5 separate regions of the Homo sapiens genome follow, and regions 2, 3, 4 and 5 are each linked to region 1. Evidence: fine-mapped expression QTL. A gene starts in region 1. Each other region holds a variant in brackets. All regions are shown on one strand. Distances are between the middles of the regions.

The links. PIP is the estimated chance that this variant, and not a neighbour inherited with it, causes the effect. A credible set is the group of variants that fine-mapping cannot tell apart.
Region 2: its variant is the best candidate, but not a certain one, in a credible set for the expression of TCN2 in atrial appendage (GTEx, PIP 0.65).
Region 3: its variant is the best candidate, but not a certain one, in a credible set for the expression of TCN2 in whole blood (TOPMed, PIP 0.61).
Region 4: its variant is the best candidate, but not a certain one, in a credible set for the expression of TCN2 in subcutaneous fat (FUSION, PIP 0.85).
Region 5: its variant is the best candidate, but not a certain one, in a credible set for the expression of TCN2 in whole blood (INTERVAL, PIP 0.89).

Annotation. Positions count from the first base shown.
Region 1 is chr22:30,604,017-30,609,142 of GRCh38, forward strand. It overlaps TCN2 (transcobalamin 2), which reads left to right and starts at 3,158. Exons shown (of 9, transcript NM_000355.4): 1 at 3,158-3,379. The coding sequence starts at 3,316. It also overlaps a transcript of PES1 not described here. RefSeq lists enhancers at 2,944-3,523, 3,026-3,320.
Region 2 is chr22:30,664,034-30,669,159 of GRCh38, forward strand. DUSP18 (dual specificity phosphatase 18) reads right to left here and starts at 3,842. Exons shown (of 2, transcript NM_152511.5): 1 at 3,429-3,842; 2 at 1-47. It also overlaps a transcript of SLC35E4 not described here. RefSeq lists an enhancer at 3,940-4,329. The variant G/T (reference allele first, on the strand shown) is at 2,576.
Region 3 is chr22:30,625,224-30,630,349 of GRCh38, forward strand. It overlaps TCN2 (transcobalamin 2), which reads left to right. Exons shown (of 9, transcript NM_000355.4): 9 at 1,237-2,048. The coding sequence ends at 1,298. Among named protein-coding and RNA genes, the nearest start is that of SLC35E4, 8.0 kb to the right of the region's middle. The variant G/T (reference allele first, on the strand shown) is at 2,489.
Region 4 is chr22:30,560,670-30,565,795 of GRCh38, forward strand. All of the region lies in intron 1 of GAL3ST1 (galactose-3-O-sulfotransferase 1), which reads right to left. Among named protein-coding and RNA genes, the nearest start is that of GAL3ST1, 11 kb to the right of the region's middle. RefSeq lists a silencer at 4,760-4,960. The variant C/T (reference allele first, on the strand shown) is at 2,370.
Region 5 is chr22:30,795,480-30,800,479 of GRCh38, forward strand. The region is part of intron 2 of OSBP2 (oxysterol binding protein 2); the gene reads left to right. Among named protein-coding and RNA genes, the nearest start is that of MIR3200, 66 kb to the left of the region's middle. The variant G/A (reference allele first, on the strand shown) is at 2,392.

The DNA of each region.
Region 1 (5,126 bases):
GGCTCCAAGTATCACAGGGCTGTGTATGAAGGGTCCGCTTCAGGTCTGGACGGCAAAGTGGACCTAGAGTCTTGTTTCCTTGGAAACTACAAAGTTAAGAAAAATGTGGAATGCTGAGTCCAGAAACACCTTATCTGAGACTGCTTGTCTGTGTCAAAATGACATAGCTCTTTTAGGCAACAGTGGGATGTTCTGTTCTTACTAATAGGATATCAAACAGCAAATTTCTGATTGCTTGTGCTTTTAGGGGGAAAAATATAAATAATCAGTAAAAAAAGTAGTAGTCACCCAAATAGCTGTAGCATGCATGGCCTTGATAGAAATGTTTCCTGTTGGCCAGGCGCGCTGGCTCATGCCTGTAATCCCAATACTTCGGGAGGCTGAGGCAGGCAGATCACTTGAGGTCAGGAGTCCGAGACCAACCTGGCCAACAGGGTGAAACCCTGTCTCTACTAAAAATACAAAAATTAGCTGGGGGTGGTGGCGCATGCCTGTGATGTCAGCTACTCAAGAGGTTGAGGCAGGAGAATCGCTTGAACCCGGGAGGAGGGTGTAGTGAGCCGAGATCATGCCATTGCACTCCAGCCTGGGCAACGAGTGAGACCCTGTCTCAAAAAAAATAAATAAATAAGAAAAAATAAGAAATGTTTCCTGTTGATGTTGCAGCTGGCTTGCAGCTGGCTTTAGAGGTCCCTGTTATCCCAGTCTAGTGGGAGCACAGGCAGACTTTTACTTTCTCATTCCAAGCTAGTTTTCACCACAAATAGAAATCTTGATCTGGCCAGGTGCAGTGGTTCATGCCTGTAATCCCAGCTCTTTGGGAGGCTGAGACAGGAGGATCGCTTGAGCCCAGGAGTTCAAAAATAAAAAAAATAGAAATCCTGATCTAAATGATGTAATCATTTTTGTTTTTCACATTCCCTGACCACATGACCTGAAATAGCACTACCCCTGACCAGTCACTCTATTTCTTTTTTTAATTTTACTTTATTTTTAGGACAGGGTCTCCTTCTGTCGCCCAGACTGGAGTGCAGTGGTCTGATCTCAGCTCACTGCAACCTCAGCCTCCTGGGCTCAAGTGATCCTCCCACTTGTAGCCTCTAGATTAGCTGAGACTTACAGGCACACACCACCATCCCTGGCATTTTTTGGTTTTGTTTGTTTTTTAGAATCAGGGTCTCACCATCTTGCCTAGACTGGTCTCAAACTTGTGGGCTCAAGCAATCCTCCTGCCTTGGCTTCCCAAAGTGCTGGGATTACAGGCATGAGCCACCAGTATTTCTAATATGTATGGGAAATATGCTGTCTTCCTATTCCTACTCCCCCACCCTCTAGCACTGAGTCCAGGTAGGTAGGCAGGGGGGTGTCTCCCTCCTTTACTTCGACACCCTAACTACCTTGGGGATCAGAAGTGACTCTCTGGAAGGATGCTGCTGCTTCTCACCAGAGGCTGACGATAACGAAGGCTATCCTCCATGGCCACCTCCTCCAGGCTGCCTTCCTGGAAATAGGAATCATAATAGTTGTTACTGGAAACAGGCAGAGGGTTGGGGGAGCCAAGGCAGTCCCACCCAGGACCAAGGTGGCTCCATTGCACACACTTCACCATGACTCCCCTGAAGGTCCAAACGTGCGGTTCTGCGGAAGTTGGGCTCCCCACTGGCCTCCCTCCTTCCTCAGAACCTCCAGGGGTGCTCCTCCTAGTGGCCACATCCAGCCTTTCTGACTGGACAACCTATCATTTAAAATTTTCAAGTAGTTCCGTAAACAGACACACGTTGCTGTATTTATTTATGTCAAGGGCTTGGTTTGTGATAAATCAGGCTCAAAAAGATTGTCTTAAAAGAGTGAACCTTGGCAATTTACCATAAAATAATTGCAATGCAGATTGTGCATGGAAATGATTGGAGATATTTTAAGGTCATAGTGTCTTCACAAATTGAGCTGAAAGGGAACTGTTAGGATGATCTTGCCTAACCCTCTCTTCTCACACAGGAAGAACTATTTTAAACTCGAGAGGTTAAGTGACCTGGCCAAAGTCACACAGCCACCACTAGTTAACTCGTATACATTGATTCTCCTGTGGGGCTGGGCAGATGAGGAATCTTTTGTTCTCTTCCCTGTTTGCAGAGATTTTTTTTGAGGTTACTTTCCGAGTTCTGGCAAGTACCCCTGCTTCTGGTAGCTTTGTGTCTCGATTCAATCTCATTCTTTTTATTTTATTTTATTTTTGAGACAGGGTCTCACTTTGTCACCCAAGCTGGAGTGCAGTGGTGTAATCTTGGCTCACTGTAGCCTCCACCTCTTGGGTTCAAGCGATCCTCCTGCCTCAGCCCCCCAAGTAGCTGGGATTACAGACGTCTGCCACCACGCCAGGCTAATTTATGGTTTTTTGTATGTGTTTTTTGTGTTTTTGTAGAGACAGTGTTTCCCCATGTTGCCCAGGCTGGTCTCCAACTCCTGAGCTCAAGTGATCTGCCCGCCTCAGCCTTTCAAAGTGCTAGGATTACAGGTGTGAGCCACCGTGCCCGGACTTAATCCCATTCTTTAACTTGTTTTGTTTTGTCCTCTCCAGGAGGCTCCCAGCCCTTTCGGATTGGTTGAGAAAAGTGGCCTGGCTGGTCTGGGGCCAGCGGCACCCACCCTCCCCTCAATTGCCCAACTCCCCCCCCCCACCGAACTGCCCAACTCCCCCTCCCCAACTGCCCAACTCCCCCACCCCCACAATCCCCTCCCGCCACAACTGAGGGAGGCGGTGCTGAAAAACAGCTGACTCCAGCAATGCTGCTCACGTGACCACTGCAGCTGCAGCTCCCGTTCCACTCCTTGTCCTGGGCTAGGTGGGCACTACCAGGGGCTCCTTTGGTAAGGAGTACCGGGTAGGCACCCGGTCCTGCCAATCCACCACTGGAACAGCTGGGGGGACAGCAGACAGGCACGGTCGGACAGACTTGACAGATCAGGCATCAGGCCCTCTGCGCTGGTCCCGGGCTCTTTAAGCAGGAACGTGAATGGCCTCAAGATGTCTCACATGGTCCCACTAGCCCTCCTCCTCCCTTTGTTCCCTACCTCCAGGAGGGCTGCTCTGCCCTTCCTTCCTCTGTTCTTTGGCCTTATGTTCCCCGCCACCACAGACCTTCCCCCGCCCCACCCCTCTGCAGACTTAGCCGTGCATTGCAGGCATGGAGGATTAATCAGTGACAGGAAGCTGCGTCTCTCGGAGCGGTGACCAGCTGTGGTCAGGAGAGCCTCAGCAGGGCCAGCCCCAGGAGTCTTTCCCGATTCTTGCTCACTGCTCACCCACCTGCTGCTGCCATGAGGCACCTTGGGGCCTTCCTCTTCCTTCTGGGGGTCCTGGGGGCCCTCACTGAGATGTGTGGTGAGTAACTCGCCTCTATCCTGTGCCTCTTTCCTCCTGGGTCCTTAGTGGGGTGGCTAGGGCATAGGATGAGGGAACTTACCTGCCCTTCTAAGCTCCCATAGCAGTTTGGGCTTAGCTGGACCTCAGCATTTAACACATCCTATTGTGATTGATTATATGTTTGACTCCTCACCAGACAAGATCTCCGTTAATTCAGTCATTCGTTCACACATTCATTCAGCGCATACTGAGCCTTTTCTGTGTCAGGCCCAGTGTTAGCCTTTGGGGAACGTGCAAAGCATGAGACAAGTCTAATCCCTGCCATCCTAGAGCTTATGTTCTAGGGAAGGGGGACAGACAAAAGAAATGGTTAGGTGCTCCCACCTGAAATCTCAGCATTTTGGAAGGCTGAGGCGGGAGGGGAGGATCGCTTGAGCTCAACAGTTCAAGGTCAGCCTGGGCAACATAGGGAGACCCCATCTCTACAAAAAATAAAAAAAATTAAAAAATAGCTGGGCATGGGGAAGACTTTCTGAAGACCAAGAGGACACATGGGAGCTGAAACTCGAAGGAAGAAAAGGAGCTGGCAGGAAAGGAGTGGGGGACACACATTCTAGGCAGCAGGAAGTGAGCCTTCGGAGGTCCTGCCTGCTCCAGCTCTGTGCCCCAAGGGGTCTCTTGGAGCACAGTCTCCTGGGACCTGTCTATGAGTCTGAGCTTAGAGGCTCAGGGCTGCTCCTTCAGACAGGAGGCAGAAGGCAGGCTTTGGGAACTTTGGGCCGCCCACGCGCCTTTTCTCCTCCTCTGCACCTAGGATTACGTTGAGCAATACACTTTCACCCCCATGGTCTCTTGAGACCCTGGGGAAACCCTGAGAGGTGGGTGCAGTCATGTCCAGGTGTCAAGTGAAGAAGTCGAGGGTTGGAGGGGCTGAGTGACCCACTCAGGGTGCTCCACCTTTTCCAGAGCTTTGCTGAACTTAGTTTTTAGAACTTGAAGCCTCGTTTGTTTTCGTTTTGTTTTTTGTTGAGAGAGGTTCTCCCTCTGTTGCCCAGGCTGGAGTGCAGTGGCACGATCTTGGCTCACTGCAGCCTCTGCCTTGTGGGTTCAAGTGATTCCCCCACCTCAGCCTCCCAAGTAGCTGGAGACTGCATGTGCATACTACCATGCTTGGCTAATTTTTGTATTTTTTTGTAGAGACAGGGTTTCGCCATGTTGCCCAGGCTGGTCTCGAACTCCTGGGCTCAAGTGAAACTCTTGCGTCGGCCTCCCAAATTGCTGAGATTACAGGCGTGAGCCACCGTGCCCGGCCAGAACTCCAAGCCTCTCATCTGTGTTCCATAAATGCAATCAGACACCTCAGGTCTGGGCCCAGGAACCCCAGCTCTTGGTTCATGTCCGGACAGTCCCCAGGGGAGTTCTGGGTTCAACCAGCAAGAGCTCTTCCTCCTGGCTGATCTGGTCCTCAGCCTTGGACAGTTAGTCCATTAACCTGACCCCACAGGAGCCCCAATCCCTTGGGGTCTGGGGAATCTTGAACTGGGGTTTGGGGTGCAAATATCTGCACTGAGTCACTTAATTGCACCCAGCCTCATTCCTTTATCTGTAAAGTGGGCTAAGAATGCTCCCCTGCCTTCCTCCTCGGTGTAGTACAAGGAAGGATCCCATGACACCTGCTCTCCCAGTTTAAAGCTCTATATGTATGTTGTGAAATTGACAGGGATCGCTGCACAAACGCTAATGCAAAGTGGGCTCCTGTGCTTCC
Region 2 (5,126 bases), 60 kb after region 1:
CGAAGCACGAAGGCTGCGTCTTTCTGCTAGGCTGTGTCCATGGAAAACTGCAGAGAGGGAGAGGATGTTTAGAGGGCAGGTGCCCAGAGGGCCAATTCCAGGGGATCCCTGGGAAATGGATGGATAGGCTTATAGCATTCCCCAAGGCAGTCCTCTGACCATCACAGCAGAACTACCCAGCAAACTCATTTAAAGTACAGATACCCAGGTCCCTCTCCAAACCCACAGTCAGACTCTCGGGGTGAAGAGCATGAATCTGCATTTTCAGCATGCTTCTCAGGTGGTCTAATGTGCACTGCCCTATAGGACAAATGGCAAGTCCCCAAGTCTGGCACTTGAGGCCTCCCTTGAGGGGTCCCACAGCTCTAGTTGGGCAGATGACTTGTGTCCCTCAGCTGTGCCTTGGCCTGATTCTCCATTTAAGCTCACAGAGCCCTTTTCTTGCTGCTCTTCCAAATTCTCTCCTTCCTTCCAGCCCCTCTGAGTGGGAACCATTTGTACAGTCTTCCTCCTCAGTCTTCTGACTTTATGCCCAAATCATAAGGTCCTGAGCCAGTGGCATGGAACCAGAGCCCACTGTGCTGGCAGTCACTGAGGAGGCTGGTATAAGAGTAGGGAGGGTTCCCATTTTCCCCCTCTAAGAACCATCTCTTTAAAGAGACAGGATATGCCCATGCGAAGCTGATGTCAAATACAAAGTCCTAAATTGTTAGACATGCTCCTGCACCTTGCCTCTGAAGAAGGCCTGGGAAAGGGAGTGGCTGAAAGCTTCCTGGAAGCCAGCATAATGGGCACCACAGCAACCCCAGGGACAAGCACAGAGACAGCAGGGCCTTAGGAAGACCTGCCACACCTGCATCATGCTGCCTGCAGCAGAGCTGTGAAACACACCCCAGGGAGAGGCAGACCCCTTCCCTTCACCTGCTCGATAGGCTCAGTCGCCGCTAAGTAATTGGGGTAGAGGTTCAGCCGCAGATCTGCTTCCCGCGCCGCAGACCGTGCAGTCGTCGGTGCTCCTCAGGTGCGGCCTGGGTGCCCAGAGCATTCATTAGACTCTCGGACCCTCACTTTCTCAGTCTTAAACAAAGCTGCAAAAACCAGGACATCTTTATACATTCCGCTGAAATAGGGACATTTGGATTTAGATCACACCTTTCAAGGCCAAGTGGCAGTCTTCACCAGGCACGAGAAATGAGGAGCCAAAGTTTTGTTTCCCTGCTTAATATATTTCAGTGGCTATCCACTGTGAGGATAAGATGGAGCCACTTAGTTTGGCTGTCAAGGCCATTTGTGACCTGGCTCCTGCCTGTCTCTCCAGCCTCTTATTAGGCTTCTCCATGCTCTGAAGGGCCTCAGGTGAACCGAGCCACTTACAGTTCCTTAGGGACAACCTGTCCTCTCCAGCCAGTGGCCTTTGCCCCTGCTGATCTCTCAGTCTCTTTCCTTATGAACCCATCAGATCCTGATCTGGTCCATTCAGCAGAGGACTGCAGAAGTCTGAGGAGCCTTAAGATATCAACTTAAAGGTAACTGTTTTAAGGGAAATCTCCTTAGATCACACCCCTCCCTCACGTTTGACCAACTCTGCTCCAGGCTTTCTTAGCCCTATGTTCTCTCCTTCCTAACACTTACTGAAGACGTAGTTTTGCTCCGATCTGTCTGATTATTTGATTAATGTCTGTCTCCCCAAGAGACTGTGAGCCCTTTAGGGATATGATGGTGTCTGTCTTCACTCCCACTCTATCACCAACTAGTGCCAAGCGCTGTGTCCCCACAAGTAGGTGCTTGATAAATATTTGTTGAATGAAGAAATGACTCCCAACAGCTATGACTCTGCCTTCTGAGAGGTTTTCTGGAAAGAATGAGTTCTCTGGCAGCGTGTCTCCAGAATTCCAGGGAGGGGCTGGGTGGGGATGGGGGTGGTTCTGAGGCTACTAAAGAGAAAGACCAAAGGTTGTATAGGCAAATCCTACCTGCCAATGCCCCAGACTCAAATGCATCAGGCTCATTCCCGGAAGGACAGAGAGGGCTGGCTTGCTACAGAGGTGATATGAAGGGCAAAGAAAAAGCCTCCTGAACCCAGATGGAAGTCTAAATGCTAAGGAATGTTCTGGATCCTCGTCATCAGAAAATCCATAGAGAAGTGAACTGATGTCCCCCCAAACCAGTGCCCAGTGGGTAACGGGAATAGAGGAATGTGCTGTTCATTATAGCCACTAAAAGTCTGCAGAAGTGACAATGCTCTTGCAGGTGAGGGTAGTGATGCGAGGAGTCATTTTCATGCTAGTTAAGAAATATCTATCAGGGCTGGGCACGGTGGCTTAAGCCTATAATCCCAGCACTTTGGAAGGCCGAGGCGGGCAGATCACCTGAGGTCAGGAGTTCAAGACCAGCCTGACCAACATGGTGAAACCCCCGTCTCTACTAAAAATACAAAAATTAGCCAGGCGTGGTGGCATGGGCCTGTAGTCCCAGCTACTCAGGAGGCTGAGACGGGAGAATTGCTTGAACCCGGGAGGCGGAGGCTGCAGTGAGCCAAGATCGTGCCACTGCACTCCAGCCTGGGAGACAGCGT[G/T]AGACTCCATCTCAAAAAAAAAAAAAAAAAAAAAAAAAGCAATCTCTATCAGGCACTGTATTAGGTGTTGGAGATACTGAAATGTACAAGACAGGCATGGCCCCTTTTCTCAGGGAGCTCAAAGACTAGTGGGAGAAACAGATAGTAAACAGGCAATTACAGGCAGACAGAGCTTGAAAATAGGATAACAGTACCTACCTTAAAAGGATGTTGTGAAATTAAACGAGATAATCCACGTAAAGAGTTTTCTCAGGGCTTGGCATAGAGTAAGCCCTCTCAAAATGATAACTATTTTTCTCGCTTCTGATAGGGAAGTTAAAATGCAGGGCTCTGTGAAAGGGAAGTGTAAAAAAGATTTCTTCCAGGTCGGAGCCTAGGGAGTCGCAAAGACCACCTGAAGAAATCACAAAAGATCTAAAGAACGTTTAGCTTGAGAGGGAGGAGGAGAAAAAAATAGCAACTCGGTAGCAGTTCAGCTTCACCACTTTACAGCCTATGAAGTATTTGGCTTCCCTCATCTGGTTCGATCTTCAAAGCAACCTAATCAGACCGGCGTCTAGAGTTAATATTTCCATTTTACAAAAGAGGAAAGTGAGACACAGCGCGGAAAAGGACTTGTTCAGAACGAGTCATAAAGCAAAGAAGCCGACCTTTATGGTCCATTATGTGTGGGAAAAATGAACAAACACCGCGGGGCGTTCGTGAAATACTAAGTTATAAACATGGAACAAAGTCCAAGAGTTAACGAGAGCGAAGCATCACTTCTAGGGGTGGGCCGGGTAGGTTTCCTAGGGGAGCTGGCATTGGAATAGGCTTCTTCGCCTGCTTAGTGTCAGGACCCCCAGGGTTTTACCTCTCTCCTTCAGGCGGGTGGGCGGGTTCGCTCAGGAAGTAGCCGCTTGGGGAAGCCTTAGGCAAGGTTCTTCGGGAGAGAGACCCGTCATGATCCCGCAGCCTCAATCCCCGCTGGCCTAACGCTTTGGTTTCCATAGCAATGGGCTCGTCGCAGAAAGGAATAGCCTGTGCCGGGTCTTCAGAGAAATCCTGGCCTCGGCTCCACGCCCCTGAGCAGCCCCACCCTGGCTCAACCTGTTACCCGCCCTGCCGGCAAGCCGGGGTCACTGCAGTCCCCGTGGCGAAGCAGGGTCAGCTCAGCTCACCGCACCCCACTCCATCCAGCCCTGCCCATCTCTACGGCAACGGGCCGGGTCGCACCAGGGCTGCAGCCGAGAGACAGTCTCACCGCTTCCGTAGCCGCCCGGGCTCTGTGCGCATGTGCGACACTCCCTCCCCGGCCCCGCCCCCTTATGCGTCTCCCAGGCAACGCGCCGCGCGGGGCTCCAGGTTCCGCCCAGGGACTAACTCCAGGTCTGCGCGCGTCCAACGAGCACGGCTCTCAACCGGCCTCCTGGCGCCCAACGACCATGGCTTCCAACCGGCCTCCGTGCGCCCAACGACCATGACTCCCAACCGGCCTCCAGTTTCCAACTGTTTCTCGAACAGGGAAGCCGCCATGACACAGCTGACTACGCCCTTGGTCACAGGGGACCTGAGATCCTCCACGATTTACGGGACCGGCGCCACCTCGGGCTCGAACCACCCTCTCGATAGGGCCGCCGCTAAGTAATCGGCGTAGGGGTTCAGCCGCACATCTCCTTCCCGCGCCGCGGACCGAGCAGTCGTTGGTGCTCTTCAGGTGCGGCCTGGGTGCCCAGAGCCTTCGTTAGACTCTCGGACCCGCAAGGGAGCCCGAACTCTTTCAGACTCGCTCTCCCTCAGCCGGACCTCGGCCCTTTTTCACACCCCAGGGGAGTCTGGATTTCTCATAGTCCTGGGCACCAGCCCCTTCCCAGTCTAGCTCTTGGGACTCCCTGAAGCCGGAACTCCCTCGCCTGGACTCCCGGGAGAACCTGGAATCCCCATCTCCAGTCCACATTTTCTCAGAATCTGTCCTAGCCCTTCAGTCTCCCAGGCATGACATCGTGTGGTCCCAGCGCCCTAGGTGGTGAGCTGTGACTCTCCTTAGAGCCTGGCGAGGCCGAGGTCCTCCCCAGCTCGAACCCATCCCACACTCCCCTTCTCAGCCTCTGTGTTCCCCAGTGGTCCTGGAAAAGCCCCCAGTTCCCTCTGCCTGGCCCCAATCCTCACAAACCCAATTACCCACGCTCCTTTCCATTCCATAACCCCCATCACTGCATCCTCCAGGCTCCCATCCATGGAGGACTTGAGGTGGAAAGCAATTTGGTTCAAAATAACCATTATTTATTACTTGAAAGGGAATATTTCCAGTCGTTGCCAGCCTCCTCCCCTTCTAGTATTGGTAAATTTTTTGCACCACTGAGTGGGTGAAGAGTTTTATGCGTCTTTAAATGTTTTAAGGATTTTTTTAAAAAAACAAAAAACTCTCAGGATTTGGGGGACTTTTGTGTTTGAGCATCTTGATCTCTAAACCAGCTTTTTCCATCACCTCACACCTAGGCTATGCATAGAGGTCAGAAAAATGTAAATGAGAGATTGAGAAGTTGGATTGTTCATACTAGTTTGTAAATAT
Region 3 (5,126 bases), 21 kb after region 1:
GAAATAAAATAACAGAAATGTATTTCTTAACAGTTCTGGAGGTTGGGTGGGCAGTCCCAGATCAGGACACTGACAGATTCAGTGTCTGATGGGGGCCCACTTTCTGGTGTTACCTGCTGGCTGTGTTCTCACATGGTGGAAGGAACATGGCAACTTTCTGGGGCCTTGTTTTTTAATTTAAAAAAAAAAAATATTTTCCTGGCCCTTGCCTGCTGAAGGAACCTCTTTTATAATGGTACTTAAAAATTTTTTTTTTTGAGATGGGGGTCTCACTCTGTCACCCACGCTGAGTGCAGTATCACAATCTCAGCTCACTGCAACCTCTGCCTCCCTGGCTTAAGCGATCCTCCCACCTCAGCCTCCTGAGTACGTGTGACCATAGGCCCATGGCACAAAGCCCAGCTAATTTTTTGTATTTTTAGTAGAAATGTGGTTTCACCATGTTGCATAGGCTGGTCTCGAACTTCTGAACTCAAGTGATCTGCCTGCCTTGGCCTCCCAAAGTGCTGGGATTCTAGGTATGAGCCACCCTGCTCGGCCTATAATGGCACTTTCCTATCCCATTGATGAGGCTCTACTCTCATGACCTAATCATCTCCCAAAGGCCCTAAGGCCTCCTGATACCATCACCTTTGGGGTTAGGTTTTAACATATACATTTTGGGGGGACACAGACATTTTAGACCATAGCACCTCCATTGAAAGGAAACATTTCTGACACCTGGCTATCTCAAAGGGCCCTTTCAGTTCCCCTGCAGGCTGCATTCCCACATCACCAACAAGAGCAGCGACACTCACTCAGAGGTTAAATAACTTGTCCAGAGTCACAGCAGTAATGAATGACAGAGCTGGGGCTTGAATCCAGGCGTCCTCCTAGAGCCTGGATTCTGTGTAGTGAGTGAAAGCTGACTCCTGGGAGACTTCTGCGTGGTCCTGGTTCTCTCTCCAGACTGCACTGCGCAAGTTTCTCTTCCTGATGGTCCCTAGGGTATTACAAAGACAGTGGCCCTGCCTGTCAGGTGTTTTTATTACCAGATGAGGTCATGGCCTCAGGAACCCTGTGGGAAGCTGAGTTCAGAGTCTTTGAGCAGGCTTTAGGGAGGTTCCAGCTTCCCACCACCAAGCCCCAGGTGGATTCTTACAGACTCTAGCCTCAGGGTGGGGGGTCTGGAAGATGAGGTTGCGGGGTGCGATATTCTGCCCAATTCGCCCCTCCTTGCTCAATCTGTTTCTGCAGGTATTGCTGACTACAGACCCAAGGATGGAGAAACCATTGAGCTGAGGCTGGTTAGCTGGTAGCCCCTGAGCTCCCTCATCCCAGCAGCCTCGCACACTCCCTAGGCTTCTACCCTCCCTCCTGATGTCCCTGGAACAGGAACTCGCCTGACCCTGCTGCCACCTCCTGTGCACTTTGAGCAATGCCCCCTGGGATCACCCCAGCCACAAGCCCTTCGAGGGCCCTATACCATGGCCCACCTTGGAGCAGAGAGCCAAGCATCTTCCCTGGGAAGTCTTTCTGGCCAAGTCTGGCCAGCCTGGCCCTGCAGGTCTCCCATGAAGGCCACCCCATGGTCTGATGGGCATGAAGCATCTCAGACTCCTTGGCAAAAAACGGAGTCCGCAGGCCGCAGGTGTTGTGAAGACCACTCGTTCTGTGGTTGGGGTCCTGCAAGAAGGCCTCCTCAGCCCGGGGGCTATGGCCCTGACCCCAGCTCTCCACTCTGCTGTTAGAGTGGCAGCTCCGAGCTGGTTGTGGCACAGTAGCTGGGGAGACCTCAGCAGGGCTGCTCAGTGCCTGCCTCTGACAAAATTAAAGCATTGATGGCCTGTGGACCTGCTACAGTGGCCTGGTGCCTCATACTCCTCAGGTGCAGGGGCAGGGACAAGAGAAGGGGGAAGTAACCCCATCAGGGAGGAGTGGAGGGTGCCTGAGCCGCCATGTGGGCATTGGGGGAGTGATGGGAATGCCAGCAGTGATGACATTGACTACTGACTGAGCACCCACTACTATGACTGAGCACTCACTCGCTAGATACTATCTTGAACTGCTCTGTGAGGTTGTTGATATTTTCATTTTTATCTGTGCTTTACAAATCAGGAAACTGGGAGGCCGGGCATGGTGGCTCACGCCTGTAATCCCAGCACTTTAGGAGGCCAAGGCAGGTGGATCACAAGGTCAGGAGTTTGAGATCAGCCTGGCCAACATGGTGAAACTCCATCTTTACTAAAAATACAAAAAATTAGCCAGGCATGGTGTTGCATGCCTGCATGCCTGTAATCCCAGTTACTTGGGAAGCTGAGGCAGGAGAATTGCTTGAACCCTGGAGGCGGAGGTTGTAGTGAGCCGAGATCACGCCATTGCACTCCAGCTTGGGCAAGAAGAGAAACACTCTCAAAAAAAAAAAAAAATCAGGAAACTGGTGCTCAAAAAGGAAAAGTGACTCACCAAGGTCACAGACTAGGCAGTGATGCTGGGGGAACCTGGCTCA[G/T]GGGACACAGACCTGGCCTGGGGCAGCCTTGCAGCTCCTCCACTAAAATACTGAAAATGAGGGGCTTCGATGATGGTTATAATCGTATGGCAGAGCCCCAACTCAACTGGAGCCCTGGGACCCAGAAGCTAGGGTCTCACTCCCTGCTTTTCCACAAGGCACCATTAGGGCATCACCCCAGGCCTCGGCAGCCACGACGCAGGGATCCTGCCTCTCATTGGTTGGGGGCTTAGGGGCTCTGGGCTGCCCTCTTGAAGAGGGGGTTCAGCCCAGCGAGGCACCCCCTATGCTGCACCCCACCAAGGTTAGGAAGAGGTCCTGTCCTCAGTGGGGCCCTCTGATGAACAGCCCATCAGGTCTGCGTCCACATGCCTTGGAAGAGATGGTGACATACTCAAAGTCCTTGAAGCCGCATATTAAACCACCTAGAGCACCATCTTCAAACATTTAGGGTCTGAGAAGATAGGGGAAGTAAGCAATTTAAAACATTTCTTTATATTGGGCCAGGTGCAATGGCTCACGTCTGTAATCCCAGCGCTTTGGGAGGACGAGGATCACCTGAGGTCAGGAGTTCAAGATCAGCCTGGCCAACATGGAGAAACCCCATCTCTACTAAAAATACAAAAATTAGCTCAGGCGTGGTGATGTGCACCTGTAATCCTAGCTATTCAGGAGGCTGAGGCACAAGAATTGCTTGAGTCAATATTGCACCACTGCACTCCAGCCTGGGCAACAGCGAGACTCTTGTCTCAAAAAAAAAAAAAGATATTTGCTGAAAAGACCCAGCCTGCCAAACTCAGGGGCAGCCAAGGGAGGTAGTGAAATGGAAGTTGGAGCTCAGCGCTCCCTCACCTCCACTGCCCTCAGGCCTTCTCTGCCTCTTTCCCATCAGTCAGCTGCTTCTGGGCATGGTCCTGGCAGAGACTTGGCCTCCTTCCAGTTCAAGCTCCCTCTTAGATTGTGTCCCACGCCACTGAGTCTCTGGGACACTGGGTCAGTTGTCTAGTCTGGCACAATTGGCAGGAATCCCAAGAAACAGTGTGAGTGAGGGGACAGTCGTGTTGAGTGCGTGGCCTGATAACAGGGTAAGAGTCCAGAGGCCCTCCATCTGGGACTGGGAGGCAGGTCTATGTCAGGCCTGCATTTAGATCTCTAATAGCTCCAGACAAGCCCCTTCAGCTCACTAAGCCTGTTTCCTAACACAGCTGTGGGATGGTGCTTTGGTTTACATAGCACGCGATACCATCATAGATCACATGGGGAAACTGAGGCCCCAGGAGTGATCTGCTGGCACATGCAGTGACAAGAGGAGAGGCCCATCTCAGCCTTGCAGCAAGGTTGCCAGAAATCGATTCTCGCCCCCATCCCGTAAAGCCTCTCTGCATCACCTGCTTCCCACAGCAGCAGCCTGGGCCTCCAAAGGGCACATTCAGATTTGAGGGATTTGGGGAGTTTGTGGGCAAGGGCAGACTACTATGGGCTTTTGGGTGAACCCCAAGGGAATGCAAAGAAGCCCCCTGCCATTCTCCATGAATGGAGCTGAATGCCCTAGCCCCCCATTCTTCCACGTGGGAGTATCCTCTTGAGAGTCCTGCTGGCTGTTGGTCAAGGCAGGTTAAAAGCTGAGGCTTAAAGTAGCCAGGGGTAGTGGCTCCCGCCTGTAATCCTAGCAACTTGGGAGACTGAGGCAAGAGGATCAATTGAGCTCAAGAACTGGAGGCTACAATGAGGTATGATCACACCACTGCACTGTACTCCAGCCTTGGGGAAAGAGCAAGACCCTGTCTCAAAAAAAAAAAAAAAAAAAAAAAAAAAAAAAAAAAAGCTTTGGGAGGCCGAGGCAAGTGAATCACAAGGTCAGGAGTTCAAGACTAGCCTGGCCAAGATGGTGAGCCCCTGTCTCTACTAAACTACAAAAATTAGCTGGGCGTGGTGGCAGGCGCCTGTAATCCCAGATACTCAGGAGGCTGAGGCAGGAGAATTGCTTGAACCCAGGTGTCGGAGAGTGCAGTGAGCCGAGATTGTGCCACTGCACTCCAGCCTGGGTGACAGAGTGAGACTCCATCTTAAAAAAAAAAAAAATGCTGAGGCCCTAGAGCCACACGGAGACCGGGTCCAAATCTCCTGCCACCACTCAAGCTGCGTGTCCCTGGCTTCTTGCTTTTTGCAGCTGACCAAGCCCTCTAATCTGCAACTGGGATAATACAGCGCCTGCCTCCAGGAGGAACAGTAAGGAGTGGATGGGATGAAGCCCTCCACCCTGGCCACAGGTGGTGTCTGTGGGTGGCAGAGCTGAGATTCCCCCACCTTGGACCCCAGTGCCGACACTTGCCATTGTACCATGCCACCTCCCTGCCCCCTGAGACTGGGCCTGAGGAAGCCACAGCCCCTCCCATGTGCCCTGGCCCCTCTGGGCTCCCATGGAGGATGGTGCTGCTGGGTCACCTGCTTTGGGCTCTGCCCTCAGACTCCCTTCACCCCAAGGTGTGCCATCCTCTCCATTCCACCAAGGCCTGTCCAGGCCTCGCTTGCTTAATCCATAGTCTTCAGAGCCACCTGTCATTAGGCAGGGCAAGTGGGAGCCGCTTCATGGTGATCTTGGAGACAGATTTTCACCATCAACCACTCCCCATCAGCT
Region 4 (5,126 bases), 43 kb before region 1:
GGATTAGGATTCCTGTGGCTTGCCCTCTGGAAATCCCAAGGACCCACCCCGGCCCCAGCAGCCCCACTCACCAAGGTACCTTCTGGAATCAGGGAGGCTGCAATAGTGGAGGCGCTGAGGTTCAGGCCCAGCAGCAGGGGGCAGACCAGCCTCCCTGCCCCGCCAATCAGGCTCCACCTGGCCCCGCCCAGGACAGTTCCTCCACCCGCACCCCCCCAACCCCATTACTGGTACACTCATTCACTCATTCACTCACTGGTTTCATTCTCCCATTTGCTCTTTTGTTTGTTTTTGAGACGGTGTCTCCCTATGTTGCCCAGGCTGGAGTGCAGTGGTGTGATCTCGGCTCACTACAGCCTCCACCTCCTGGGTTCAAGTGATTCTCCTGCCTCAGCCTCTCGAGTAGCTGGGACTACAGGTGCCCACCACCACACTCAAGTAATTTTTGCATTTTAGTAGAGCCGGGGTTTCACCATGTTGGCCAGGCTGGTCTCAAACTCCTGACTTCAAGCGATCCACCCGCCTTGGCCTTCCAAAGTGTTGGGATTACAGGCGTGAGCCACTGAGCCTGGCCCCCATTTGCTATTTCTCAAAGCTTGCCAGGCCCCTGCCACACGTGCTGGGTGCTGCCAGCCACTGAACCTTGGGCTATCCCTCCTAGTTTTACTTTTGAGCCCCTGTTAGGAGCCAGGCCCAAAGCAGGGGCCTGCCTCTCCAGAGCATCTAACTGACCCTACTCAGCAACCACTCAGTGGATACCACTCCACCCCCCACCCTGCTGTCACCCCCATTTGGTAGATGGGAAAGGTGAGGTTCCAGGAGGTGACATAACTTGTCCAGGGTCATTCAGCAAAGCGGGGGCAGGGCTGGAATTAGAGCCCAGGTCTATGGAACTCCAATGTGCTGCTTCCTGCTTTGTCCATGGCAGCCCCTGCCTGGTGTGTCCTAAGCCCTGTCCCAAGCCCAGGGGAAGGAAGGAGGGAAAGTTGCATTGCAGGAAGTGGGGGATGTGGGGTTGGACAGGAAGCTCTATCCTGGGAGCACAGCAGGGTCCCGTCTCTGTGGGCTGAGCCTGCGGCCAGGATAAGGGGAGGGAAAGCAGAGGGGGCCCTGGTGTCCGTCCCTCCCGTGCCAGCCACCTGAGGGGTCCAAGGCTGGTTGTGCCTTTCCTGCCTAGCTACTGTAAACTTAGGCATGAAGCTATGAACCTCACCCTCCCTAAGCCTCAGTCTCCTCGTGTGTGCAATGGACACACAACAGCAAGATCAAGGCACACAGAGCGCTCTGTAATCACAGGCAGAGCCCCTGGGCAGACTGAGGTCGGGAGAGGAGCTAGCTGGCAGCCAGGAGCCTGGCTTGAGGGAGAACAGTCACTAGGCTATGAGATAATTTTTTTAAAAAGACAGGATCTTGCTCCATCACCCAGGCTGAAGTGAAGTGGCACGATCATAGCTCATTGCAGCCTTGAAATCCTGGGCTCAGTGGATCTTCTTGCCTCGGCCTCCTGAGTAGCTAGGACTAACAGGCATGCACCACCATGCCTGGCTACTTTTTAAAAAAAATTTTGTAGAGATGGGGGTCTCACTCTACTGCCCAGGCTGGTCTCGAACACCTGGCCTCAAGTGAATTTCCCACCTCGGCCGCTCAAGTGCATACCACCCATGCCCAGCTAAGTTTTTAATTTTTTGTAGAGATGGGGGCTCTCACTATGTTGCAGGCTGATCTTGAGTTCCTGGCCTCAAGTGATCCTCCCACCTCCACCTCCCAAAGTGCTGGGTGTAAGCCACCATGCCATGCCCTAAGGCTGTGAGACTGAGATAATGCACGTACCCAGGAGATCAACTCATATTAATTATTATCATACCATTGACTCTGACCCAGCCTTGGTTCACCGGCGTGCCAGAGGTGAGGTCCCTTCCATGCCCCGCTGCAGGCAAGCCTACCAGTGACTCATCCCTGAGCTCCCCGAGCCTGGCACCTGGTGAATGTGTGATGAATGACTTCCCATGACCCTCAGGGCAGAAGGTGTCCAGGGCTATAGAGCCCGTGCAGAGAATGTGGATGAGGACATGGTCCAGGCAGACAACACCTCACTGAGACACAGGAGAGATCCTGTGTAGGAGACCTACAGACGAAAGTAATACATGTGAGGCACATGCATGTAAAAGCTCCCATGGGCCAGGCCCGGTGTAATCCCAGCACTTTGGGAGGCCGAGACAGGCAGATCACGAGGTCAGGAGTTCAAGACCAGCCTGGCCAACATGCTGAAACACCGTCTCTACTAAAGATACAAAAAATTAGCCGGGTGTGGTGGTGCGCACCTGTAATCCCAGCTACTTGGGAGGCTGAGGCAGGAGAATTGCTTGAAC[C/T]TGGGAGACAGAGGTTGCAGTGAGCTGAGATTGCGCCATTGCACTCCAGCCTGGGTGACAGAGAGAGACTCTTTCTCAAAAATAAATAAATGGATTAAAAAATAATAAAAATAAAAATTGAAATCTGAAATGTCCCTAAATCCAAAACTTTTTGAATGCCTACATGACACCACAAATGGAAAATTCCATACCTGACCTCACGTGACAGGTCTCAGTCAAAGCGCAGGTTTATTTAGCATCCTGAAGGGAAAAATAAAACTACCTTGAGGCTATGTGTATAAGAAACATACATGAAGATGGGGTGTGGTGGCTCATGCCTGTAATTCCAGCACTTTGAAAGACAGACACAGGAGGATCACTTGAGCTCAGGAGTTTGAGGCCAGCCTGACCAACATGGCAAGACCTCATCTCTACAAAAAATACAAAAATTAGCCAGGCATGGTGGTGCATGCCTGTAGTCCCAGCTACTGGGGAGGCTGAGGCGGAAGTATCACCTGAACCTGGGAGGTCGAGGCTGCAGTGAGCCATGATCGTGCCACTAAACTCCAGCCTGGGCTACAGAGCAAGACCCTATCTCAAAAAAATTAAAATTAGGCTGGGCACAGTGGCTCATGCCTGTAATCCCAGCTCTTTGGGAGGCCGAGGTGAGTGGATCATGAGGTCAGAAGATCGAGACCATCCTGGCTAACACAGTGAAACCCCATCTCTACTAAAAATACAAAAAAAAATTAGCCAGGCTTGGTGGCAGGCACCTGTAGTCCCAGCTACTCAGGAGGCTGAGGCAGGAGAACGGCGTGAACCCAGGAGGCGGAGCTTGCAGCGAGCCGAGATCACTCCACTGCACTCCAGCCTGGGCGACAGAGCGAGACCCCGTCTCAAAAAAAAAAAAAAGCTTAAACAATAAAATCAATAAGAAAGAAAGAAACATAAATTCTTTCTAAACTTAAATGTTTAGACTTGGGTTCCATCTCCAAGATATCTCATTACATATATGCATATATTTCAAAATCTGAAAAATCTGAAATCCGAAACACTTCTGGTCCCAAGCATTTCGGATAAGGGATACTCAACCTGTACCAGCTGACCCTCCATCACAGGGTGCTGTGCAGATCCTCTGCATTCCACAGGGAAAGCACCCAGCCCGAGGCTGGTGCAGAGCAGACAGTCACTCAGCAGGGCCTGCCATCATTGTTATCATCATTATCATCATTACGTTCCCAGGGTCCCAGCCACAACCCCATCAAAGTGTGTGCCCACTGGCCCACGATGGAGGCTTGCAGGCAGCCAAGTCCAGGGATGATCTCAATGTAGCCAGAGACTCCTAGCCTCAGGGTCAGAAGACAAAGAGGCAGGGAGGCTCAGACTCAGAGAGGGCAAGGATACCTTTGGGGTAACACAGCCCAGCAGCAGCAGAGACAGGACTAGAACCTGGGTCTCCCACCTCCTCCACCCACAGTAGTGACAACTGCAGGCACTCAGGATGGACGGTCCCCCCGTCACCAGCCCACTCCATCTATTCCTGCCCTTCTAGATTACGCCCATCACATTGGCCTGCATCAGTGCAGGCAGCTGGCAGCAGGCCAGGCCCAGCCATCCTCCTGTTTAGCTGAACTGATGCCCTCCAGGGAATGAAGGAGAAACAGGACTTATTCCCCCACATCATGCACAAAGGGAAACTCAGCCCAGGATGGTAAACCTTCTGGCTTAGAGCATCACCACCAGTCAGGTCTCAGGGTATCCTACTTTCCCTGTAACCCCTGTGGTGGAGCAAAAGAGACACACTCACCTCGGGCTGTGGCTGGCTGCCCCTTTCTACCCACTGCCTGAGCCACGTCCAACTCCCAGGCTGCCTCTGCGATCACTGGGAGACAGGAATGCTCCAATGACACCCAGCAGCAAGCTGGCTGGCTCCCTCCCACTCCAGTGGTGTGAATATTCATGAGTTTGCTTCCTGGGGATAGCAGGTGGCACACCCCAGTACCCTGCAGGTGTTGCCCAGGCCTTCTGCCTCCACTGGACAGCTCTGGCCAGTCCTCACCTCTCTTTGGACCCCAACAAGCAAGCAGCTCTTTCATCCAAGGGCACAGAAAGATTCCAGGTATCCTTGGGCCAAGGACACAGCAACCGCAGACGCCTGCAGAGAGCCCAGAACAGGCTCTAAGGCTGAGTGAGGGACAGAGAGGTGCAGGTGGGCTGGGGTGCCAGAGGGCTAATTGCCCCACCTATTGCATTTCATTTAAGTCTCACAGCTGATGCATCAAGCACCCCTGTTAGTCTACCCTCCTGGTAAAGAAACCAAAGCTCAGAGAGGTAACGTCACCTGCCCAAGGTCACGCAGCTAGTAGAGGGCAGACAGAGCTGGAGTACATACGCAGACTTGCCAAACTCCAGGGCTTAAAGATGCTGAGACACAACCAGGGACCAAGGTTTATCTAAAATCTGTGGGAACCCAGAAGAATGAACAACTAACTCAGCCTGGAAGGCTTCCAGGAGGCAGAGCATCTGACCAGGGCTCAGAAGATGAGTCTGGCAAGATTTCACTTCCTGAGCTCTAAATCTTTCATCAGAGAGGGTGTCCTGCCTCTATCCCTGGGTGAGGAATGGTGATACCCAGACACTCGACCAGCTCTGCAGGATTTGGGCTGATTGGAGATGCAGATCTTCCCCAAGGCCTTGGCAGAAGAGGCAGTTCTAGGTGCCCTGGCCCTAAGCCCCAGGAACCCTAGGACTCAGTTCAGGCACTTGAATCTTAGGTTC
Region 5 (5,000 bases), 190 kb after region 1:
TTCTTTTTATCCATTCTGCCGTTAAACCTATCCAATGCATTTTTTTTTTTTTTTTTTGAGATGGAGTTTCACTCTTGTTGCCCAGGCTGTAGTGCAATGGTATGATCTCGGCTCACCACAACCTCCGCCTCCCAGGTTCAAGCAATTCTCCTGTCTCAGCCTCCCAAGTAGCTGGGATTACAGGCATGCGCCACCACGCCCAGCTAATTTTGTATTTTTAGTAGAGATGGGGTTTCTCCATGTTGGTCAGGCTGATCTCAAACTCCCGACCTCAGGTGATCCGCCTGCCTTGGCCTCCCAAAGTGCTGGGATTACAGGCATGAGCCACCCTGCCCAGCCTCCAGTGCATTCTTAGCTTCAGATATGTTTTTAAATCTTGGAATGTCTATTTGATTATTTGTATAGATTTCCAATTCTGTTGAAATGCTCCATGTATTCATCCATTTTGTCCTTTATCTTTCCTTTTTTAAAAACTTATTAACCATAATTATTTTCAAGTTGGCTCCTTGCCAGTCAAGCTGCTTTGAACACCCTAGATATGCCAAGTGGTTTCTCTCACTGGTTCTTGACATTTCAGCCATCTGTATTTTTGAAAGTTTACATTTCTCTTCTGTAGTATTTTCTCTGATTGCCCTAACTGCCATGGGCTTCATGCAAGGAAGGCATTGAGTCTTTGAGAACTTCCTAGGATCTAGGAGGAGAGTCACACAAGGCCCTGGCTTTATGTGGATATAGCTTCTTGGTGACTGCTGAGGGAAATGCTGATCTCCTGGGCTGGATCGACCTCACTGAGGGCCCCTTGGTTAACCAAGGACACAAGGATGATGCTCAGGGTTGAATTTGTTTTTCTTGCTTTTACTCCTTATGAATCTCAAGTTTTAGAACATTGTAAACATAAATATATTTACAAGGGAAATAATTTTGATATTAAACTCTACTACCCTATGTTATTTTAAATTATCTTCTATTCTTTGTTAATATATGTGCTTTAGATAAGAACCATTGGGTTTAATTTTTTTTAATTATTTATTTATTTATTTATTTGAAACAGGTTCTTACTCTGTCGCCCAGGCTGGAGTGCAGTGATACGATCTCAGTTTACTGCAACCTCCACCTCCCAGGTTCAAGAGATTTTCATGTCTCAGCCTCCCTAGTAGCTGGGATTACAGGCTCATGCCACCAAGCCCAGCTAATTTTTATATTTTTAGTAGAGACAGGGGGGTTCACCATGTTGACCAGGTTGGTCTCGAACTCCTGACCTCAAGTGATCCACCCACCTTAGCCTCCCAAAGTGCTGGGATTACAGGCGTGAGCCACGGCACCCAGCCAAAATTTGTTTTTGTTGTAGCAAAATACACATATCATAACGTTTACCATATTAACCACTTTTAAGTGTAATGTTCAGTGGCATTAAATATATTAGTGTTGTTGTGCATCCATGACCAGCAATAATCCACCTATCCATCTCCTGAACTCCTTTCATTTTCCAAAACTCTTGACCCATGAAACAGTAACTCCCCATTCCTCACTCCCTTTAGCCCCTGGCTCCCACCATTCTACTTTCTGTCTGTTTGGATTTGACTATTCTAGGTACCTCATATAAGTGGAATCATATGGTATTTATCTTTTTGTGTCTGATCTATTTCCCTTAGCATAATGTCTTCCAGGTTTTTCCATGCTGTAGCATATGATAGAATTTCCTTCCTTTTTAAGGCTAACCAGTATTCCACTGTATGGATAGACTACATTTTGTGTCTTCCATGTTTTAGCTATTGTGAGCAATGCTGCTATGTTTATTTATTTATTATTTTATTTTTTTTGAGACAAAGTCTCCGCCCTGTCACCCAGGCTGGAGTGCAGTGGCACAATCTTGGCTCACTGCAAACTCCGCCTCCTGGCTTCAAGCGATTCTCCTGCCTCAGCCTCTCGAGTAGCTGGGATTACAGGCATGTGCCACCACACCCAGTTAATTTTTTGTATCTTTAGTAGAGACGGGGTTTCACCATGTTGGCCAGGCTGGTCTCAAACTCCTGACCTCGCGATCAGCCCACCTCGGCCTCCCAAAGTGCTGGGATTATAATCGTGAGCCACCACACCTGGCCCTATTTATTTTTATTTAACTAATTTTTTTTTTTTTTTAGACAGGCTCTCACCCAGGCTGGAGTGCAGTGGCACAATCAAGGCTCACTGCAGCCTCAACCTCCCGGGTTCAGGTGATTCTCCCACCTCAGCCTCCTGAGTAACTAGGACTACAGGCGCCAGCCACCATGCCTGGCTAATCTTTGTACTTTTCGTAGAGAGATGGGGTTTTGCCATGTTGCCCAGACTGGTCTCAAACTCCTGAGCTCAAGCAATCCACCCACCTTGGTCTCCCAAAGTGCTAGGATTACA[G/A]GTGTGAGCCACCATACCCAGCCAATGCTGCTATGGATATTGGTGTACACGTATCTCTTTGAGACCCTGGTATATGCCCAGAAGTGGAATTGCTGGGTCATAATAATAATCCTATTTTTAATATTTTGAGGAACCTCCACCCTATTTTCCACAGCAGCTGCTCAACCATTTTATATTCCCACCAACGCTGAGTTTTAAATTCTCCACATCCTTGCCAACACTTGTTATTTTCAGTTTTTTAGATGGTAGCCGTCCTAGTGGGTGTAAGGTGGTATCTCATTGTGCTTTTGATTTGCATTTTCCTAATGATTAATGAAGCCAAGCATCTTTTCATGTACGTATTGGCCATTTGTGTATCTTCTTTGGATAAATGTCTACTAAAGTCCTTTGCCCATTTTTGAATCGGATTGGGTTTTTTGTTGTTGAGTTTTAGGAGTTCTGTATTCTGTATATTAATCCCTTACCATATATATGATTTGCAAATATTTTCTCACATCCTGTGGTTTTGTTTTTACTCTGTTGATAGTGTCCTTGGAGGCATAAATTTTTTAATTTTCACGAAGTCCATTTTGTCTATTTTTGTTATCGTCTGTACCTTTGGTATCATACCCAAGAAATGTTTGCCAATTCCAATGTTGTGAAGCTTTTGCACTAAGGTTTTGCTTATAACTGTTTTATAGTTTCAGCTCTCACATTTCAGTCTTTGATCCTTTTGAGTTAATTTCTGTATATGGTGTTAGGTAAAGGTTTGATTTCATTCTTCAGTATGTGGATACACACTTTTCACAGCAACATTTGTTGAAAAGACTATTTTTTACCTACTGAATGGTCTTGGCACACTTGTCAGAAGTCATTTGATCAGCTGGGCATGGTGGCTCACACCTGTAATCCCAGCACTTTGGGAGGCCAAGGCAGGCAGATCACCTGAGGTCAGGAGTTCAAGACCAGCCTGGCCAACATGGTGAAACCTTGTCTGTACTAAAAAATACAAACTTTAGCTGGGCATGGTGGCACACGTCTGTAGTCCCAGCTACTTGAGAGGCTGAGGTGGAACAATCATTTGAACCCAGGAGGCGGAGGTTTCAGTGAGTTGAGATTGTGCCATTGCACTCCAGCCTGGGTGACAGAGTGAGACTCTGTCTCAAAAAAAAAAAAAAAAGAAATTATTTGACTATACATGCAAAGGTTTCCTTCCTTCCTTCCTTCCTTCCTTCCTTCCTTCCTTCCTTCCTTCCTTCCTTCCTTTCTTTCTCTTTTGAGATAGGGTCTCACTGTGTCGCCCAGGCTGGAGTGCAGCGGTGCAATCTCAGCTCACTGCAGCCTCTGCCTCCCAGGTTGAGGCCATCCTCCTGCCTCAGCCTCCCAAGTAGCTGGGACTACAGGCGCCCACCACCACACCCAGCTAATTTTTGTATTTTTAATAGAGACAGGGTCTCACCATGTCTTGGTCTTCGAGACCAAGCTGGTCTTGAAAAACCCCTGGCCTCAAGTGATCTGCCCGGCTTGGCCTCCCAAAGTGCTGGGATTACAGGCGTGAGCCGCCACGCCCAGCCTGCAAGGGTTTGTTTCTGAAGAGCCATTGGAGTTTTAGGGCTGAAAGATACTGCAGGCAGTAGTTAATTCAATGCCTTCTTATTACAGATGAGGAAACTGAGGCCCAAAGACAAAGGGCAACTTGCCCTGGGTTTCGTAGTGACAGAGCTGAAAGTACATCCTAGGCCTGACTCCACATCTGATGCTTTTAAAAGCTAGTTGTTAGTTTGCTTTGCTCCTAGAAGAGTGTTATCTCAGTTACTATTTCGATAGAAGTGGCAAATGCCTTTTTCATTCTGCAGAAAATGTGTGTGGCTTACCCATCCTCTTCACCACTCCTGTGGAGCAGTCCATCACTGGCAGCTCCTGTATTTTGAAGCATTACTGTGGCAAGAATAGGCCACCTGTTTTGTGGGTTTCTATTTGCCCTGACATTTAGTTTGCAGAGTTTGAAAGGGTCCTGAATATAGCTATGTAATAACCTACTACAGAATGCCTTCCCAGTGCACATTTGTCTTTATTGCCTACAGCAAGGAACTTGATCTTTGAAATTTTTAGCAACCTAGAGCCTCTTTCCGTCATGCCTACCAGTAAGACAGACCTGGGCTAGGCTACCGTCCCAAGGGTTGTCTTGGCAGAGGCTGGGTTGGGGGTGAGAATAGGGGCAACGGGGAATATGAATTAGACAAAATTCCAAAGCAGATTTAAAATTATGCCATTCTTGGTATTTCCTGGCTGGGTTTGCTCATTCAAGAGCTATTAAGCCCCTCTTAGTGGTATTGTGGACACTTTGCTGGGAGCTGACAGGCCCCTCACAAAACCAGAAGGCAAGAACTCATAGATTTTCTGGAGGAGCTTACGAGAGGGGGCAGGGACCCAGGGAAGAGGCTGCCATGTGGGACCAAGGAGAGAGGAGGAGGGCTGGGTCCAGGCCTCCCGAAGTGTCAGAAGGAAATGGTGAGCCAAGGAAGCACTGGTGGAACCTGGGGCAGGCTGGCTGGTTGTGAGGGAGGAGGAAGGCATGAGCCATGGACATGCTTCTGTCTTCAGAGAACACCTGAGAGAGCAAAGCACAG